Regions from separate parts of the Homo sapiens genome. Here region 2 is linked to region 1. The links come from fine-mapping of genetic effects on gene expression. A gene starts in region 1. The other region holds a variant in brackets. All regions are shown on one strand. Distances are from middle to middle.

Region 1 (5,365 bases):
CCATACGTGGTTGAAAGAATGGAACAGCTGGCGACCTCTTTTTATGAATGCCCACATTTTTCACAGGGGGTAGATGTGTTTATTTTCCTGCTAGAAGGGAGATGTGACTCACCCCAGAACAAGCTTGCGTGCTGCTTTGTAGCTGTAACACCCCAAATTCTTCCAGCAGTACCCTTGGATGGAACGTGATGAAGCACTATTTGAGAGTTAAGCCATGGCGGTTTCTCATGCACATTTAGTTCCTGTTATCCCTCTGCAGCCTGGGCTGGTCAGCATTAGGTAGGGGGACCTGGGAAGTCACTGGGCCAAACACTTCAGAACTCTCTGGCTGGAAATGGGGTTGAACCAGAAGGTGGCTTGGCTTTGGAGTTCTGAACTATCCTTTCCCAAATAGGCTTGCAAAGCCTGGGCTTGACGTGTCATCACTAGTAGGTGCTCTAAAAAGCACAGAGAGATGGCCAAAAGGCAGGATTCAAGGGCATTTGGAGGGATGAATGTACCTGCCTAAGGACATGGGCCTAGAAAGGGATGTGGTTTTAAATCTGCCACCTAGAATACATGAAAAGGGAAAACGACAGTTGGAATGCTGTCCTCAGTTTATAGAGGAAAAGACAGGAACGGCAAAGGGTTAGGCACGCAAATAGGCAAGATTTGAGTCTGGCTTTGGAGAAGGAGCTTTAGCATTCACAGGAACCCCAGGGAGTTCAGGACTGGGCCAGAGTGGCATCCATTCAGCCAGGTCCCATGATTAAGGGGCCAGAACTATCCCCTGAGGGGAGGCTTTTTGGGTGCTCTTTCTCAGTAGCTATTTATGGTTCCCCTACTGGTTCCAAAGTCTTCTTGAGTTCATGTATATTTCCTGCCTTGGGGTTTTGAGACCTGACCTTTTATTAAAATAATTAGATCATCTAGGGCAGAGCTGGAAGAGACCTCAGGATCATCTAGTCCATCTCCCTATTTTCCCAAATGAGAAAACAGGCCCAGAACTGAGGGCAGCAGAGGCAGGGCTAGGTTTCTTCCTAGCAGTACCCATCATCCCCGGCTTGGGGTTTGTAAGGAACTCTCCGTGGCCCTACCTAGGCTTGGACAATCACAGCCTTTCTCAGTAGCTCCTCCCTCCACCCGGCTCGGCCATACACACACCTTGACTGAGGCTGGACAGCCTCCATCTCAGCATGGCTCCTGGCTACTGACACTTGTGCCTGGCCTCTGCCCCTTCCTACAAGCTCTGCCCCTAATAGTAAGAGCCAATTTCTTGAGCACTCACTATGAGCTAAGCCTCCCATGGGGTCAGTCTCTAATCACCATTTTCCCACGTGAGGAAATAGACTCAGGAGCTGAGTGCAGAGATATGCTCCAAGTCGCGTCACAGGCAGGGTTGCCGAGCCAGGATTTATTTACATCTTCACATTCAAAGTTCGTCATCATGAATTTTGACTCTTGGGGACTGGGCTGAGGACGGGGTGGTACTGCTCCTGGCAGGGCCAGAGGTGGATGGGGCTTGAAAAGGGGGTTCAAGGCAGCAGATCTATGGTTCAGGTAAGGACCATCCCCCCAGCTCCCCACCTGGCTCTAGCTGAAAATGACAACTACAACTGGAGCTGGCTCCTGCGCCCACGACACAGCCATTCATGCTTTTGGTGCACATTCCCCTTAATTACCAAGGCTCCCAATTAACGTGGGCTGCTGTGTCTGGTGCTGGGTTATTTTCTCCTATTTTTCCGTTCCTCGGGGTTTACTATTGCAGAGAGACACCAGGTCTGTCATTGTGCCTGTCTTGCTCCCTTCCCACCCTAACCAGAGGGAAACCGAAAAGCAACAGCTGATGGCAAATCCGCTCCGGCGCTTGCACGCCTCCTCGGCGGCAGTCTCCTGTTGCTTCTCGGAGCTTGACTGCCCTTTGGAAAAATCTCTCCGCCCCTCGAGAGGAGAGAGGAGCAGAGGACGCGCGCGAGCACAGAGCGGGAGGACGGACAGGGAGAGGAGGAGAGGGGGTCTGCGCGCGGCCGCTACCCAGAAGCCAGCGGACGGCAGCACGGAGTGGGCTGTCCCCGAGCCCAGCCCCGAGCGAGCCCCCCCCCCGCCCCCGCAGGACGCGCCTCCCAGCCAGCCCGACTCCTAGGAGGAGGGGAGGCGGGAAAGCAGCTCAAGCCTCACCCACCGCCCTGCCCCCAGCCCCGCCACTCCCAGGCTCCTCGGGACTCGGCGGGTCCTCCTGGGAGTCTCGGAGGGGACCGGCTGTGCAGGTAGGCGGCTGGGGAGGTGGGCAAAGTTGGCTCCTTTTTCCGAGGAGGGGCGAGGCTCGGTGGGGACCGATCTCTGGAGCGCCGGGAGCGCCGGGTTTTGTGTGTTCAGTGGGTGTGTGCGGTCCTCCGCGGTCAGCTGCGCCGCGGTCCCCGCCTGGGCAGCGGGAAACCGGGCTGGGGATGTAAACAAGGAGATCGGCGTCGGAAGAGAGAGGAGCCTCTAGGGGAGGCAGGCTGTGGCGCTGGGGGTGACGCTGGTGGCTGGGAATTGCTCTCGGTGCTGCCTTGAGCTTGGGGTCAGGGTTTTCAGGAGAAGGGGAAAGGGCTGCGCCCACCCTTTATCCATGAGGAGTTTTCCCTTTGTTACTTGGAAGCTGTGGACACTTGGTGGAGCGTGGGGAATTACGGACGAGGGCGTGTGGCTGGGTGTGAGTGTGGACTTATGAGCGACACAAAATGGAACTTGCTGGTTTGGTGCTTGGGGAAGGTGGGGCTGGGCAGTGGGCACAGGATGGGGGCGCAGGGAAAGAAGGATTCTAGCGCTCGGGGATTCATGAGAGTGCATCATTTTTTCCCTCCTTCTTGTCTTATCCATCCAATCCTGTTTCCTTTCCGGGGGGCCCTGGGGTCCGCCATTGCCCCCTTTCCCCAGCAGGGCTGGCCCTGGCAGAGCCTCCCCTATTGTGTCTCCCGGGCTTCCGTGGAGAGTTGGGTGTGCAGCCTGGAGCTCCCAGCGCTGGCTTCTGGCTCTTACAAGTGGTGGCTGGTAGAGGAGGCACCCGAGGGTGGGAGCTGGGAGCAGCCTCGCTGGAAACATGGGTCTGCCGCGTCACCTGCTGCAAGCCTGCACGCTCGCGGGACCGTGGCTACTGGAGGCTTCTCCCCACCAGTGTGCTCTCTGCCACTACTTCCTTTGTCTCTGTGGCTTCGTGCTGTCTGGCTGGGCTAAGATTTCCAGCTTTGAAGATGGATCAGTGGGCATCTCAGGCCCTCTCTGAAAGGAGCCCCCTTTGGGGATCCAGCCACCCTCATATTATGGATGTGTATGTCTACGTCCGCAACTTAGCCTTTTGCACGTGACTTGCCTGGTCGTTGCCATGGAAACTCCTCCATTTCTCAGCCTCCCTCTTTCTCCTGCCCATTCCTCACCTCCATATCTCCTCCCCTCCCCCCAGTATGGTTGCCTAGATACTGGTTATCCCTGGCTAGGAGACCTAGATATCTGGCTCCTACACCCAATTGCAGTGGCCCCTTACTCACACCACCCACTTCACACACACTGCACATCACCAACACCACAAACACATACAGACATATACCACACTACGCAATCAACACACCCTCACACTCACACCACACATACATATACATCATACCTATACACACATACACACCAAACACACCGCATATATACCGCACCACCACACACCAGCTACAATGCTACACTGACACCCTACATGCGCACTGTGCATGCACACACACACACACAGTACATCTAAATAAGTCTCAGGCTGGGCTGAGGCAGGGGAGAGAGAGGGCAGTTTCCTTCCTTATCCAGCCACCTCCCTAGGGGTGTGGAGGGGAAGAGATGGAGGCTCAGGAAGCCCAGAAGGAAAACCCTAACATCTCCCTGGGAACCCTGCAGAGGAAGGTGGAGGGAAAGGCACTGCCAGATTCCCTCAAAAGAGGAGCCCCTTCCCTAAACCTGGAAGGGAAGGTTGGATAAAGAGTGGGCGCAGCCCTTTTCCCTCCTCCTCAAAGCCCCAGTCCGGAGCTCCAGGTGTTAACGAGAGCCATTCCCAGGTGCTGGGCTCCAGAAGCTGGGCACTGACCAGAATTTCAATCTCTCCACTGCCGCTGCTCTTTTCCCTGACCCAGAGAAAGCCTGAGGCTCTGGGAGTCATCCTCACCAGCAGAGGATCAGGCCAGCTCTGGGACCATCGGAGGCTCTGAGCCCTAACAAAGGAGAGAAGGAAAAGTGGTTACTGTCCCAGGAAAGCCAAGGAGGCCAGGCCAGGGAGGCAGGAAGGGGAGGGAAACCAGAAAGAGGGAAGGAGAGGGGCCACAGGAGTCAAGAAAGCGAAAGTTAGGGCTACCCGCCGTTGCCTGGGGTTCAGGCCACCCTCTCTTCCTGGCACGTTTTCCTGCTTCCCCCCTGGCTCCTCCAAACAGATCTGTGCATCTAGGAGAGGAAGCGGGTGTGCAAAGGGCTCTAGGCTTGCCAGGGTTCTCCCAAGACGTGTGGCTTCTATGGTTGACAGACGGTAGGCGCCTGGGGGAAGCGTTTCCTTCCTGGCTTCCATCGGATCTTCAGACTGACCTGAGGACCGATTTCATTCAATCATTCAAAGAACTGTTTTAAGTGTCTACTGTGTATTAATTGCTGGGGACATGAAGGTGAGGAGGGAGACACAATCCCTGACATCGGAATCCTAGGTTTCTCAGAGCCGGAAGAGGCCTTGAGGGAGCATCCAGTGGGAACACAGTGGGGGAAACTGAGGCTCAGCAGTCACGTGGCCAGTAGTCGCTGAGGCCTTCTAACTCCTCGGCCAGGATTTTGGCCTTCACACTGCCTGTCCTGCAACCCTTGCTTTCTTTTCTCAGTCACCATCAGAGATGGTGGGTTGATGGAAACCTATGGAGGGAGAGCCTTTGGTCGGCTGGTGACTGGGACGCCCTTCCAAAGTGAGGGTCCCTTAGTGGGCGGGTACAACCGAGGAGCCTGCTTCACTATGTTTTCTTGGAAGGCGAGGCTGGAAGCTGTGGCAAGGAGATGGGGGAGAAAGGGCAGTTTCCTAGACCCTGGAAATTTCCCGACAGCCTCGGGGGAGTCCACCCACCGAAATCTCCCCTAAATAAGAGCACCTCCTCTCTTCCTCCCAACCTTGTTGGACTTAGTCGGCCGCCATCTGGATGGCAGACTGTGCCAGGCAGCCCCCCAATATTCACCTTCGAACAAATCACCTTCTGAGCACCCTAAGGGAAGCAAACCAGTCAAGAAAGGCACAGCCCCAAGGAGGCAGGGAGCCTGCTGTGGAAAGGCCGGGTTCTAGCCCCAGCTCTCCCCCTGAGCTTCCGTGCTACCGAAAGGCAAATGCGTTCATTGCACAAATATCCCT
Region 2 (5,365 bases), 40 kb after region 1:
AGCTTTGACTGTGCGTAACAATATCGTGTGCCTGTGTAGCATTTAAATTCTTTCCTAAGTGCTTTTGCATCCTCATAGCGGCCCGTGATGGGCAGAGCAGGGCTCATTACTCCCGTCTTCTGGATGGGGCTCTCGAAGGCAAGTGATCACCTAAGTGCGAATGGACGAAGATTCCGATCTAGGAGGCAGGTGCCCTTCCTGGTAGCTTGGTGTTCTGTCTATTTCATCACAGACTGAGAATCTGGGAAGGCTCAGAGGAGGCAGCCTGGAAATGAAATGTCTTTTCATTTTTTTTTTCCCAAACTAGTTCTTTCTCAGAAACCTTTTATCCTAAGGCTCAGGACTGTGAGCAACCACTGGGGAGGTCCTGGGTTTAACAATTTCCTTTCCATGTCTGCCAGGCTCCAGCCCACCTGGGAGAGGCTTCTTCTGAGGTTCACCCCTCCCCTGTGTCTTTGTCTCCTTTCTCTGCGTCTCAGACGAGGCTGTCATACCGGGAATTTCAGTGGGCAGGTGCTCAAGGAAGGGAGAGAAGCAGATAAGGATACCAGAGGCAGCCGAAGTGTTTTTAATTTAAATTATCCTCCTCCTCAGCCTCTGGAACCTGAGGCGGCTGCTTGAACCTTTGGATGCAAATGTCGATGCTTAAGAAAACCGGCCACTTCAGCAACAGCCCTTTCCCCAGGAGAAGCCAAGAACTTGTGTGTCCCCCACCCTATCCCCTCTAACACCATTCCTCCACCTGATGATGCAACTAACACTTGCCTCCCCACTGCAGCCTGCGGTCCTGCCCACCTCCCGTGATGTGTGTGTGTGTGTGTGTGTGTGTGACTGTGTGTGTTTGCTAACTGTGGTCTTTGTGGCTACTTGTTTGTGGATGGTATTGTGTTTGTTAGTGAACTGTGGACTCGCTTTCCCAGGCAGGGGCTGAGCCACATGGCCATCTGCTCCTCCCTGCCCCCGTGGCCCTCCATCACCTTCTGCTCCTAGGAGGCTGCTTGTTGCCCGAGACCAGCCCCCTCCCCTGATTTAGGGATGCGTAGGGTAAGAGCACGGGCAGTGGTCTTCAGTCGTCTTGGGACCTGGGAAGGTTTGCAGCACTTTGTCATCATTCTTCATGGACTCCTTTCACTCCTTTAACAAAAACCTTGCTTCCTTATCCCACCTGATCCCAGTCTGAAGGTCTCTTAGCAACTGGAGATACAAAGCAAGGAGCTGGTGAGCCCAGCGTTGACGTCAGGCAGGCTATGCCCTTCCGTGGTTAATTTCTTCCCAGGGGCTTCCACGAGGAGTCCCCATCTGCCCCGCCCCTTCACAGAGCGCCCGGGGATTCCAGGCCCAGGGCTTCTACTCTGCCCCTGGGGAATGTGTCCCCTGCATATCTTCTCAGCAATAACTCCATGGGCTCTGGGACCCTACCCCTTCCAACCTTCCCTGCTTCTGAGACTTCAATCTACAGCCCAGCTCATCCAGATGCAGACTACAGTCCCTGCAATTGGGTCTCTGGCAGGCAATAGTTGAAGGACTCCTGTTCCGTTGGGGCCAGCACACCGGGATGGATGGAGGGAGAGCAGAGGCCTTTGCTTCTCTGCCTACGTCCCCTTAGATGGGCAGCAGAGGCAACTCCCGCATCCTTTGCTCTGCCTGTCAGTGGTCAGAGCGGTGAGCGAGGTGGGTTGGAGACTCAGCAGGCTCCGTGCAGCCCTTGGGAACAGTGAGAGGTTGAAGGTCATAACGAGAGTGGGAACTCAACCCAGATCCCGCCCCTCCTGTCCTCTGTGTTCCCGCGGAAACCAACCAAACCGTGCGCTGTGACCCATTGCTGTTCTCTGTATCGTGATCTATCCTCAACAACAACAGAAAAAAGGAATAAAATATCCTTTGTTTCCTAGTGGCTCGGAGGTGCTTTCCTTTCTGTGAAAGAACTTGAGTGTTTGTAGGGTCTGTGGAACTTAAAGGGCTAGAGGGAGTCCGTCCATGGTCAGAGGGAAGAGGAAGGACTGGATAGCCACCCAGGCAGGCACAGAGCCCCGTCAGCTGCTGTCACTGTTGCCTCCTCCCCGCTTCTCTTCCCTCCTTTCCTTTTCTTCCTTCACTTTCCTCTCCTCCTGCTCAGCCCTTCGTCCCGCACCTTCCCGCCATTTCTATTCCTCCCTCCCTCTCTCCCGCCTTCCCAGGCCACTGGGCTCAAGCCACATCCCATAGCAGGACCTGTACATTGCACACTGTCTTGGAGCAAAAAAGGGAGTCACAATGGCTTCTCCAAGTACTCAGTGGCCTGGAGTAAAACATCCTAACATTTCTCTTTGGTCAGTTCTGGGGCCACTACCTAAGGACTTGTAAAGAGAGCCAGGGGTGGTGACTCATACCTGTAATTCCAGCAACTTGGGAGCCTAAAGCAGGAGAATTGCTTGAGGCCAGGAGTTCAAGACCAGCTGGGCAACATGGTGAAATCTTAGCTGGGCATGGTGGCTCGCACCTGTTGTCACAGCTACTCGGCAGGCTGAGGCAGGAGGATTGCTTGAACCCTGGAGTTCCAGGTTGCAGTGAACCGTGATTGCACCACTGCACTCCAGCCTGGGCAACAGAATGAGACCTTGTCTCTAAAAAGAAAAAAGGAAGGAAGGGATCAAGGGAGTGACAGGGTGGGTGACGTGGATTGTGAAATACCCCTCCTCTGTGGAGCCTCCCTGGGCATTAGGTAGAATCGAATCCCTTTTTTTTTTTTTTTTTTTTTTTGAGATGGAGTTTTGCTCTTGTCGCCCAGGCTGGAGTGCAGTGGCGTTATCTTGGCCCACTGCAACCTCTGCCTTCTGAGTTCAAGCGATTCTCCTGCCTCAGCCTCCTGAGCAGCTGAGATTACAGGTGCCTTCCACCATACCCGGCTAATTTTTATATTTTTAGTAGAGACGGGATTTC[T/A]TCATGTTGTCCAAGCTGGTCTCGAACTTTTGGCCTCAAGTGATCTGCCTGCCTCAGCCTCCCAAATTGTTGGGATTAGAGGCGTGAGCCACAGCGCCCAGCCGAATCCCTTTCTTGTGCCCCAATCACACTTGTTTGCTGCCTTTATATTCACACTTCATACTTGGCATCCAGACTGTAGAGACCAGGCAGGTAATGCCAATATGTGAATCTGCTGGAGTGACGATGGGGCATGGCACCTGCAGTCACCTACGGTGTCCTCCCAAAGACACTCTGACTCAACTTTCTAAAAACCACTGTTGGCCAAACCAACACAGATGTGGGCAGATTCTGCGTGGAGGTTGCCTGTGTGCAGCTTCTGCCTCTAGTGTTTTGTGTCTTTATTGATACAATTCCTGGAGGGCAAGGACTGTGCCTGCTCTACAGAAGCCTGGAACATCTTAGGGTCTTGAAAAAAGAATCGACCCCTGGAACGTCTTAATATCTTCCATCTTGAAGCCAGCACTTAAGGAGCGGGACCCTCTGGGCCCACCTCCTTCCAGCCCCAACTTCTAAGACCCCAGTGAACCTGGCACCTGAAGCTATAGCAGGAGACAGAAGTCAGTGCTCCTTGTGGTTTCGATGGGCCTGGGAACCACCACCTTCCCTGCCCAGTGGCCACACAGGCCCTGAGTCCGCCTGGATTCCGCAAGTTGTTTAGAACCGAAGAACCGCACAGATCCGCTTGCTCGGTGCCTTCTCTACGTGTGCTCTTGCTTCTGCCTTCGGTCCCCCAGGCCTTTGGAAAGACACAGGCTTATGGTAGAGCTCAAGCTCAACCTGTCAACCCAGTGATCATGGCGATTAAAAACTATCTGGTCACAGCAAGACCTGGTAAATGAGCTTATTGTTCGGGAACACTCGTGATACATCAGGGAATTGACAGGCCTTGCAGAAATTTCATAGCGAGGCCAGGCTGAGATCCCTAGAGGCCCTAGACATGCAAAGCTTTGTGTGTGCCGCCCCCCATACGTTAGTAAAAACAGAACATTATACTTCGACATAGGAATAAGGAAGTCCAATGAGGAGGTTCTAATTTTTCTCATAATAATTATGTTAAGAGTAAGGAATGATGGTCAGCATCTCTAGCACATCATCTACAAATGGTTATCCTTACTTTGCCCGCCTCTAAGCACTCACTTAGTTTTCCTCCTAGTAATCCAGCTATATTCTGAGATTGGTCAGAGATACAATCGTCCTGGTCCAGGTTACACAGCTGGGGGATGGAGGAGCTAGGACTTGACCCCGGGCTGTCTGTCCATAGTGCTTGTCAGCACATGGCCTAGCCTCCTTCAGCAGGCAGATGCTCAGAAGAAGGGACAGTGATCAGATGGCTCCCAAGACTGCACCTGGAGCATGGCTGCCCCTTCAAGACATAAACTAGCTGGACCATGCTCCAAGGAGCCTCCTGTGGGAGTCTAATGGTCTGGAAACAAGACACATGAAGAACAATCGAAGAAATGATGGTCAAAATGGTAATAATTAAAAAAAATGAGCAGCTGAAGTTTATGGAGCACTTACTATGTGCTTGTTTGAGGACTTCACACAGATGAGCTGGATCAGAACTCAGAGTGCTATATATCTCCATGAGGAGGACCAGGAGTGTCCACTCAGCCTCCAGGCATGTGGCACTGGTTTGTAGCTGTGATTTGGTTTAATGAGGCAATGTAGCTTGACTGAATAAGAAGGACAGCTGCCATGCTGTGTCATTTCCCAGAAGGGAATCCCAAGTTCCCTGTCTCAGTAACCTCAGGTGTCCCACACCTTTTGCCTCCCAGTGACTCCCTCCACCCCCCATTCCATTTCGAAGATCTCCATGTCTCTTTGCCTGGAGGTTTTCTGCGTTACTTACCCCTGCTGTAGGAATAGGTCAGTCTGCCTTCTGGGACCCCAGGTGCTGTGGCCCTCCTACCTCTCTGTTTTTTGTTTTTTGTTTTTTTTTTGCAAGATGTAGATTAGAACTTGCCAAATTGTTCTTGGAAGAGAGTCAGAGGCAGAGTACAAGCTGTAGGGAGCGGTGTGAGGGGAGTGCCAGGCGAAGCACACTCCAAGGTCACCGGGCTGTTGGCCCCTTCCTCTGGGAGGAGGGCCTTACCTTGCTTGGAATCATGGGCTTGGCGGGGAGGCTGGGCAAAGCAGGGGTGGGAGAGCACTCCAGCTCTGTCTGGTTCACCCCACCTTGTTCCTGGCTGCTCTGCCTCACCCTGGGCCCAGCGAGAGAAAGGTCAGGTGTGTTTGCCTGAGCCAGGGGAGGAGCTTTGGAAAAACCTGTCTCCAGGCCACAGAGAAGGAATGGCCACCTCTCTCCATTAGTGTGATTTATTGCTGTCACAGCTGAGCTCCAGGGGGGCAGACTCAGCCGGCTCAAGCCAACCAGCTGTTGATCTGATGGGGCCAGCCCAGCCCC

The links.
Region 2: its variant is fine-mapped to the expression of FXYD6 in monocytes (BLUEPRINT, PIP 0.95).

What each region holds. Positions count from the first base shown.
Region 1 is chr11:117,873,473-117,878,837 of GRCh38, reverse strand. It overlaps FXYD6 (FXYD domain containing ion transport regulator 6), which reads left to right and starts at 2,180. Exons shown (of 8, transcript NM_022003.4): 1 at 2,180-2,246. FXYD6-FXYD2 (FXYD6-FXYD2 readthrough) reads left to right here and starts at 2,180. Exons shown (of 10, transcript NM_001243598.4): 1 at 2,180-2,246.
Region 2 is chr11:117,833,507-117,838,871 of GRCh38, reverse strand. All of the region lies in intron 6 of FXYD6-FXYD2 (FXYD6-FXYD2 readthrough), which reads left to right. It overlaps FXYD6 (FXYD domain containing ion transport regulator 6), which reads left to right. Exons shown (of 8, transcript NM_022003.4): 8 at 595-1,891. It overlaps FXYD6-AS1 (FXYD6 antisense RNA 1), which reads right to left and starts at 5,154. Exons shown (of 3, transcript NR_186291.1): 1 at 4,811-5,154; 2 at 2,370-2,603; 3 at 553-1,704. The variant T/A (reference allele first, on the strand shown) is at 2,920.